Linked DNA regions of Homo sapiens. The protein of the gene in region 1 interacts with the protein of each later gene in a biochemical or structural test. Each region holds a gene or a part of one and is shown in the gene's direction. Other genes may lie near its edges.

Region 1 (5,785 bases):
AGTCAGACCATGAAGACATGGAAGCCTTGCAAACAATGAAGTAATAAGGACAGAACATAAAGAAAGATTTCTCTCACAATGTTGGTTGTAGTATTGGTTGATGAGGGAAAAGAACTAAGAGAAACCAACGAAAGGACTCCTACAATAGTCCATATGGGAGGCATTATCAACCTGAACTGGTTTGGTGGCAGCAGAAATGAAAAAGCAGCAGCAGACACGAGAGATATTGAAAACTTGTATCAAAACAACCTGTCAACTAATCAAACATTGAAGGGTGAGGGAGAGGAAGAGTTCAAAAGTGAATCTGAAATTTTATTCCCGAGAACCAGAGGTCAGAAAAAGCTGGGGTCAGAAAGTGAAGCTTGTTGGCCGGAAATGAGAAATTCCTCTTTGGATGTGCTGAGGGTGAAGTGCTTGCAAGATGTCCAGTGGGGGGAAAAAAAAAACAAAACCTAAGAAAGTAAGTCTTGAGTTTCGGAGAGTAATCAGAAATAATAATGTAGTGCTGGCTAGTCTTCTTACTGGTAATAGTTAAAGCTGTGACAGAAGGCAAGATCATTAAAATTGCGAAGATAATTTTTTTAAAAAAAGAAGAGCCTGAGATATATCTATATTTAGGAATGAGAAGGAGGAAGAGAAGGTAACAGTAACTAAGAAAGAGAAATTAGTTAAGTTAAGGGAATCAGGTAAGTTTAGTGTCATGGAAGCCAAAGGAGAAGAGAGTTTCAGAAAGGAAATGATCAGCAGTGACAAAGGCTGCAGACAGATCCTAAGAAATGAATTAAAGATATTTTGGACTTGGACCTAAGGGCGTGCCTCAGAGAGACATGTCAGTAGAAGAGTGGTAGAAGCCAGATGGGAAAGCAACAGGTGGAGTGATGAATGAGAAAGAACAGGCAGGTAGAACAAGTCACACCTTTGAGAAGTTCAGCATCACACTAAAGAAGAAAGGTGGAATTTGAGGTATTGGCAAAATTGAAGGGACATTTCAGGATGAGAGATGCATTGAAAATGAGGCAGGAAAAGAAGAAACAATTCTCCTCGGAATGAGGAGTGAATAGGAGGGAAAATTTGACATTGATGAAGCTAAGGTAGAATGATTTTTAGTAAAGTAGGAGGTAAGAGCATCTGCTGAGAGGGAATGTGACAATTTGGTGACCTGGAGAGAAAAATCTGCAAGAGTCACTGTGGAAAGTAAACGAAAGGACTTCAATACATTGGAAAACGGTACTTTAAAGAAATAGCAGCTTTAAAGGTGATATTTCTTCCAATTTAGTCTCAAGACTGTGCAATCTGGAATCCTCCTCTATCTTCATTCTGGTCAAATCAGTGTCTCACCTTGGTGACCTAGCGCATGGTTTCTTTACATCTAATATCCTTACCACTTTTATCTAATAATTTCTACCTTTTATCCAAATCTCACATCTTCTGTAGAAACTTCCTTGATTAACTCAACCTGTTGTAGTTTAGTTCCTTTTCTGAAACTCTTCTGGGACTTTCAGTATTTATTACAGAAAAAGTGAAGTTCTCAGAAAGAATTGCCTTTTAATAGCAATCTTCTGAGCACACAAATCTTAACCTTGAGGATTAGTAGCTTAATTGGACTATGTAAGTGCTTGTGGTCTTTTTAGATCTATGCGAGAGGAAACATGGCCGGTCCTTCATTGCGTTCTTCTGAGCGCACTGGATAGATCAATTTTTGGAGGCCCTCTGGTGCCTGACATGTAGTAGCAGTTAACATTTGCTGAACTCCAAATACGTTCTAGATAACTCAGCACATAGTGGAAACCCAATGCATGTTTGATAAATTCCCCACCTTTTGTAATTCCTTGGGGTGGGATAGAGACGAGCTCTGGGCAAGAATATCAGTTTTCAAACTCCAGGAAAGCATACTGGACCTAGTGTCATGGAAAGTGGATCATTTTTGCGGAGGCTCTCTGAACCTCGCAGTATCCAAGGTTTCCAGGCTAGCTGGACTGTGTCTTGCCATAACCCTTATGTGTTTATGAAAAGAAAAAAGAATTCTGGCTTCAAATTCAAATTACCTTTCCACTTAGGGGAAATGGTTGGCAGAGGAGAAAATAAACGATTGCGACATGTTACGAAGAATGAGGACTAGCAAAGAGGAAGGAGCTTAGGTAAACAGTGCTGCTTTATTTCTGCTGTTAATCATTCATTGGGCCCGTCAAAAGTTTCTGCCCATCTATTTCCATCAACCGTCCTTGACCAGCCAACCACATGGCTGAAATTCAGGGACTCTTTGGTGGAGCAATTACCAGTCAACTTCAGGGTATTATGATAAACTCTGATCTGGGGAGGAACCAGGACTACATAGATCAAGGCAGTTTTCTTCTTTGAGAAACTATCCCAGATATCATCATAGAGTCTTCTGCTCTTCCTCAACTACCAAAGGTCGGTGGACTACTAAACCCTTGGGGAAGCTTGGAGGAAAGGCTGGTGGTTTGGCCCTTTAAGGAGTGCAGGATTAGAAGGATAAAACAGAGACAAAAGCTTGGAGGTGTTTTCAGCAGAAATCTTTTCAGGAGCACTGTATTAGGGGGATGTAAGACTTGAGACGTACTTTAAACCCTATCTGAACCTCAAGTTTTAAAAATTATAAATGGAGGAATAATATTGCATTCTAATAAAATAAGCTAAAGAAGAAGAGGTGTAAGGTGTTGCTCTTGTTACTGTATCTAAAAGACAGATGTGTTGGTTTGTTGATCTTTCACCACCTTCCCACATCAGAGTTGAGGCAAGGGGTCAATCAGACTTTTCAAAGGGTTCACAGGAAGCTTGCTTTTCTTAGTCTACATTCTGAAAACTGGGGCCATTTCTATTTTGAGATTTGATTAACCACTCCAAATCTCCTCCACCACTGACAGCAAAGATGTTTAGATTTGGTAATAAGGAGGACACTGGCCAGCCTCCAGTTGGTTTCTGAAGCTAGCAGTCTTAGTCGTCCTCATCTTCTTTACTTTCTGAATTTGACGATGCTGATAACCCTTCCTTCTTGAAATTCTCTTCTTCCTTGGTTGGCCAGGATACAGTACCATTCTGGTCCTCATTTTAATTCTTCAACCACTTGTCTCTTTGCTGATTCCTATTCTATCTCTAAATATGGTAACACCAAAAGAATAAAAAGTAGACTACAGAAGAGGCAGAAGCATCAAAGAAGGTTGGCATTAAGCTTAGAGATATGTTTGAATGTAGTATGAGCACAGAATAAAGGGGCTGATAGAAAAATAAAGAGATTTGGCCAGGTACGGTGGCTCACTCCTGTAATCCCAGCACTTTGGGAGGCCGAGGCTGGCGGATCACCTGAGGTCGGGAGTTCGAGACCAGCCTGACCAACATGGAGAACCCCTGTCTCTACTAAAATTACAAAATTAGCCAGGCATGGTGGCACATGTCTGTAATCCCAGCTACTTGGGAGGCTGAGGCAGGAGGATCATTTGAACCAGGGAGGCAGAGGTTGGGGTGAGCTGAGATCGTGCCATTGCACTCTAGTCTGGGCAACAAGAGTGAAACTCCACCTCAAAAAAAAAAAAAAAAGAAAAAAAAAAGAGATTCTAGGAAGGGTGGGGAAAGTGTGGGAGCCAGTTCTTTCTGGAGTTTGTAAGTGATATAATTGAGAGCCCAGGTATAAGGAAGAAGACACTCAGCCCGAGACTGGAGAAAAATACTATCCTTTCACAAGGTATCTGCATTTTAAAAGGGGGAAGTTAGACAAAATAAATATTAACTTAAAAAGTAACTTCTCATGGAAGGAGAAATTTGAGGACTAAAGATTTTTCCAGTGACTCTCAAATTGCACTGCATTGCTAAGTGCTGATATTATTTTTCACAAGGGACCCGCCATGCTGACTAAAGTTCTTGAGTTGGTTCCATTTCTGCAGGAATTTAAAAGGTGAAGTCCTTGAAATATGAAAGTTGGCTAGAGTAGTCTCAGCTTTTCAGTGAGCAGTTACAGAATTGCAGAATTTGTTCATCTAGGTTTAATGTCATTATTTTAGAGATGGAGGGAACTGATATCCAAGAAGCTGATATAGCTTCTTCAAGATCACAGACTTAGACTGTGGTATTGCTGGAACTCCAACTTGTGTCTTCTCAGCTCGCAAGTTCTAGCCTCCATTCCCATACTCTGTGGCCAGCTGGTTTCTGCTGAGGGACCACCAGGAGTAGTTATGGTGAACTGCAAATGCCGTAGTTGGAGAAGAGTTAGGATGCATCCTGATGGTTTGTTAGGGAAGTCTAGTCACTGTATTATCTCTCTTCAAAACTGACAAAGCATTTCACACACATTATTTCATTTGGTCCTCAGTGAGACAGTCATTCTCATTCTAAAGATAAAATTAAATTGACTTTCATTCCTTTTAGATTTATTATTGTTTATTCTGTCTTATTCCTTCCTCCGTGTAAGTTTTTTTTTTTTTTTTGAAACGGAGTCTCGCTTTGTTGCCCAGACTGGAGTGCGGTGGTGCAATCTCTGCTCACTGCAAGCTCCGTCTCCCGGGTTCACAGGCCATTCTCCTGCCTCAGCCTCCCGAGTAGCTGGGACTACAGGCGCCCGCCACCACGCCCAGCTAATTTTTTGTCTTTTTAGTAGAGACAGGGTTTCACCGTGTTAGCCAGGATGGTCTCGACTTCCTGACCTCGTGATCTGCCTGCCTTGGCCTCCCAAAGTGCTGGGATTACAGGCGTGAGCCACTGCACCCGGCCTCCTCTGTGTAAGTTTTAAGCTAGTTAAATTCTGGTGCTCAAATTAGGTCTTTCTAAAGGCAGTGAAAGAAATCTCTGCGAAATAAGGAGGAACTCTTTTCTCTTCCTCTGCATCTGCAAAAAAGCAGATGATAATCTGCGTGATAAAACTGACCTTGCAAATGTTTTTTTTTAACAAAGGAGTCACGGGGTTATATAGACCAATTACAATACCACGTTAGAGATGGAAAGTTGAATAAACACCTTCCTTGTCTTCAAGGAATTCACAATGTATTTCGGGAGGCAAAAGCAAATAGATAGTTAGGATACAAAACAATGCTACAATTAAGGTATTAGCCAAGTACTAGAAGAACAGAAAACACTGGCATTTCATGATGAAGTCAGGCAATGCTTCACCAAGGAGGTGACATTTGATCTGAATAGTGAGTAAAGGAATAGTGAGTAAAGGAGAAGTTGGAGGTAAGAGCATTAATGCATGGGAGACATTAACTGCAAATGCTTGCAGGTGTTTTTTAAAAAAATCCTGGCTTTGTATGGTGGCTCACGCCTATAATTCCAGCACTTTGGGAGGCCGAGGTGGGAGGTTCACTTGAGGCCAGGAGTTCAAGACCAGCTTGAGCAACATAGTGAGACCCCTGTCTTTACAAAAAATTAAAAAATTAGCTGGGTGTGATGGCACGCTCCTGTGGTCCCAGCTACTGGGGAGACTGAGGTGGGAGCATCATTCGAGTCCAGGAGGTTGAGGCTGCAGTGAGCTGTGATTGCACCACTTCACTCCAGCTTGGGTGACACAGAGTGAGACCCTGTCTCAAAAAAGAAATCCAGAATGTTTTTGGGGAAGGGTAAGTGCCTCCTTGAGACTGAAGCATGGTGTTCTAAGTGAGAAATGATGGGAAAACTGGGACAGATAGGGGAACCTATGGAAACTGGGAACCATGAATGTTTTTAAGCAGAGTAACAACACATAAATTGCTTTTTAGGGACATAATGGCATCAACATGGAAGCTGGCTTATAAATGTTTGAAGGCTTTTGCAGTGGTCTAGGGTGAGGGGAAGGGAATTA
Region 2 (4,336 bases), on another chromosome or scaffold:
ACCATGTTGGTCAGGTTTGTCTCGAACTCCTGACTTCAGGTGATCCACCAACCTCAGGCTCCCAAAGTGCTAGGATTACAGGCGTGAACCACCACGCCCAGCCTGTTATTTGTAAATGTTGAATACATGTTACATTTTCATCCTAATGGGCTAAATTTGCACCATTTGCCATTCAGAACAATTCTGTTTCTGAGGTACTCTGTTGGTGCTTTAGGGCCAACTGGGATCTATTTCAGAGAGGAATGGAATAATTGACTGTAAATGTGATGAGGAAGAAATAAACACTTTTAAAAAAAATGACACCTACCATTTATTGAACTCCCATCTACAAGGCACTTGGCTAAGTACTTCAGAAACCACTCACACTTATTACCCTCAGAGTAGGTATGTTGAGGCAACGAGATCTTAGACTCTTGCTCCTATTTACCCCAACTACACTGTTCTGCTTCCCCCAGATTATTGGTGTCAGTGATGGAGACATTTATTAATCCTGTTAGTTTCTGGGAGCTAGAAATTGTGATTTCTTCTTAGTAATACAATCTTGAATAATTTTCAAGCTGATACCCGTTTAGAAGTATCAGAAGAGAATTTGTACATGAAGCCTGCACATACGTGGGGTGTAACTCATGTTCAGTTAGGCTAAAAGTTATTGTTGCGTGCCTCTTTTCAGAATTTTAGGTACTTGTGCTTAAATTTGATTCAGAACTGTTTTGGAAAAGCCTTGAGTATGTTTGAAATACCTTCCCTCTTGAAAGTAATCTCAAGTTTTTAATAAGGGTTAATCATGTTAAAAAAACAAAAATGTCTATTCAACCAGACATTGGCATTTCTTGACCTTTTTTCCTGTCTTACCTGGATCTTGCAATAAAGGATGCCTGGTTTAACTTTCTTGAAAATCACATTAGGGAAGGCTTTGAATGAAATTGATCTGGAACAATAAGTGATGATTTGGAAAAACAATTGCTATACTTCTATGTACCCTGCTGCAGCTCTCCCCATGTCTCCACCTCTAGAGGTGGGGTTCAGGGATTTGCATAACTAAAAAATTTATGAAAGTGTTGTCCTACCTTTCTCAGGAACACCATTTGTGAATTATTTTCCCAAAAACGAGGTAGAAATTAGAAATCTAGAGAAGTAACTATTAGTACATGAGGTCATATTAGTGTTTTCTTGTTGGGTTTTTTTTTGTTTATTTGGTTTTTTATCTTATGGTTTTTTATTTATTTGATTTCTTTCTTTACGAGACCTCTTGTGGCGGTGGGGGGCGGGGAATGTTCATTTTTTTTTAAACCTATTTGACCAGCATTGTTTCCTTGAAGAAAACCTAGATTTCAGATACAGATGTTTATGTTTTGATTTATCTTAATTGCTCTGGTTTGGTTTTTGGGTTTGGTCAGCACTAACGTACTAATGTGGTTAAAATGAGTCCTTTGTTTTGGGAGGCCAAGGCGGGTGGATCACTTCAGGTCAGGAGTTCAAGACCAGCCTGGTCAACATGGCGAAACTCTGTCTCTACTAAAAATACAAAAATTAGCTGGGACTGGTGGCAGAGGCTTGTAATCCCAGCTACTCAGGAGGCTGAGGCAAGAGAATCACTTGAACCCCGGAGGCAAAGGTTACTGTGAGCCGAGATCAGGCCTTTGCACTCCAGCCTGGGCAACAAGTGAAACTCCGTCTCAAAAACAAAACAAAACAAAAATGAGTCCTTGGTAACTAGAATATTCGGTTCCCAGGGTTACAGTATCTAGATAGTAAATAATTCAGGGAAGTTAGTGGTAAGAGATTTCTTGATCATTTCTACTGAGAATTTTATTTAACAAGCATTCCTTATGAAAAATAATATCTATGAAAAATTTCCTTCATGAGGAACGAAAACTTTCATTTAATGAATGACAAGGGTATAGTTTTAAAATAAAGGGCAAAAATCAAAGGTTGGTAAACGTGTGATCTCAGCTCTGGAAACCCCATTATGCTTATGTCAACGGTGATGTCTGAGTGTTGAGGTTTGGGAAAGGTGAGTTTCCTTGACTTTTCAAAAAATTTTAGATTTTCGTATGGTCCACCATAGACAAATGAGTTTAATCAAAAGTCATAGCTTTTTTTTTTTTTTTTTTTTTTGCGACAGAGTCTCCGTCTATTGCCCAGGATGGAGTGCAGTGGCACAATTTTGGCTCACTGCAACCTCCGCCTCCTGAGTTCAAGCTATTCTCCTGCCTCAGCCTCCTGAGTGGCTGGGACTACAGGCATATGCCACCACGCCCAGCTAGTTTCTGTATTTTTAGTAGAGACAGCATTTCACCATATTGGCCAGGCTGGTCTCGAACTCCTGACCTAGTGATCCGCCCACCTCGGCCTCCCAAAGTGCTGAGATTACAGGTGTGAGCCACCATGCCCAGCCAACTTTTATCTTTAAGTAACTTGTGATGTTTCAATTGCAAAATCCTATGCCTTTGTGACTTCAAGTGACCCCTTTCATAATCCATAAGTGTTTAATGAATGTCTACCATATACCTAGCCTTGACATGGAAACATTTTTAATACAAATGTCTATTTTTATTTTCCTTTTGTTTGGTGTAGAGAAAAAATAGCCAGTTCACAATATTTTATAAAATAGTTATGAAGAGAATGTCAGTATACTCTACACATATCTTGTTTCATCTTATCAAGTAACACTACCAACAATGTATAGAATTTCTTCAAACTGAGTTTTATTTGGCTTGTTTGGGGATTTTTTTTTTTTTTTTTTTTTTTTTTTGGCTAAAAAGTAGGTCCTGAAAGGAGGACCTCCAGAATGTGCTTTGTGTCATTGTGTCGAGTCTTTCTTTTGAAGGTTTAATATTTAACTATTTATTTAATATAAGCTTTTCTTTTGCTGTTAGACTGCTTTTCAGGAAGCCTTGGACGCTGCAGGTGATAAACTTGTAGTAGTTGACTTCTCAGCCACGTGGTGTGGGCCTTGCAAAATGATCAAGCCTTTCTTTCATGTGAGTATTAAACAATGTCTGCTTTGTAAGAGATTTGTGTTTTTTGAGTTGGTGGTCACAGTGGTAGGAAAGAAAGACAGTTAAAGGATTTTGGTTTCGGTGGGGGGATTTCTTTGGCTGGATCTTTGGTCTAAAAGTAGTAGTATAACAAATAATTTAGGTTTGATACATGTAGCCCATTGAAAACAAATTTTAGAAGTTAATTTTGTCTTAAATAGTTCTTTTTTTCCCCACATTGAAACATGGGCCTTATTTGAAATCCCAGCCTCAGAATTTGATATGCCAAGCTGTTTTATACTAAGAAAAATTTGATTTAGAGAAAATTTATGTCTCTTAGATCTATGTCTCCAAAGATCTAAATTTTTGGATCTTTAATTAGTCTCTACTTTTATTAAGTTTCCATTTAAGAAGCTTGGGTATGTTGATTGCCATTACCTAGTTCTAAATCTTTTTGGATTTTTCATTTTAAATTTTCCAGTCCCTCTCTGAAAAGTATTCCAACGTGATATTCCTTGAAGTAGATGTGGATGACTGTCAGGTATGTAGCTGGAAATATGAGATACTGCTGAGCTTTTCACATTGGCCTTTTTCTCTGAATTGCACAGTGCTTTTTTCCATAAATATGTCAAATAATTCTAGAACTGTAATCCTATCTAAAAAGTTCTATCTCAGAAGAGCAGGCAAGTTAGGAGCTTAATCCTAGCTATCGGGAGCTGTATATCACATCCTAAAGTAAACAAAAATAAATGAGTGAGACTTCTGAATCTTATCGGCCACCCACCTTTCTAAAACCCTACATTCTACTTTACACTCTGAGATGTGCAATAAATGGAGATTGAATTTAGCTATGATCATTACATCCATAGGCTTGATGGAGTCACCAAATTATGAGACCGCTTGTAGGGCTCTTTGTGAACTTGCAGTAGCATGAGAACCTGCATTTGCAAGCCTATTCTAGTCTTGGTTGATTTTAGTCAATTAGAAACCACAAATGTTTTAACAAATAAACACCAAGGTACCTGAGAGAATAATTTGGAAGAAATTCCAGGGTTGGTTGTATTTAACAAATACTTGTTTTGCACTAGGTATATACCAGGCACTGTTCTGGGTGGTTTTTAAGTATCAGTTCATTTAATCCTGAGTGCTGTTATCATCCCCATTTTATAGATGAGAAAACTGAAACACAGAGGTTGTTCATGAAGTTTCAGTGAGTATGTGGCTGAACTAGGATTTAAAATGAAGTGGTCTGGCTTCCCAGCCCTTGACCTTAAGCACTACCCATCGGAGGATGCTCTGTCTTGTGGGTGTAGATCGGGTGCTTAGCACATGACCACAGACCTAGGAGAGCGGGT

What was found. The genes of interacting proteins can lie anywhere in the genome.
Region 2: the proteins of C4BPA (region 1) and TXN form a complex in vitro, tested with the Homo sapiens proteins (one study listed by BioGRID).

Annotation. Positions count from the first base shown.
Region 1 is NC_000001.11:207,102,019-207,107,803, forward strand, and holds the start of C4BPA (C4b-binding protein alpha chain precursor), read left to right. Parts: upstream 1-2,214; 5' UTR 2,215-2,412; intron 2,413-5,785. UniProt on the Homo sapiens protein: Controls the classical pathway of complement activation. It binds as a cofactor to C3b/C4b inactivator (C3bINA), which then hydrolyzes the complement fragment C4b.
Region 2 is NC_000009.12:110,250,006-110,254,341, reverse strand, and holds part of TXN (thioredoxin), read left to right. Parts: intron 1-2,879; coding exon 2,880-2,984; intron 2,985-3,462; coding exon 3,463-3,522; intron 3,523-4,336. UniProt on the Homo sapiens protein: Participates in various redox reactions through the reversible oxidation of its active center dithiol to a disulfide and catalyzes dithiol-disulfide exchange reactions.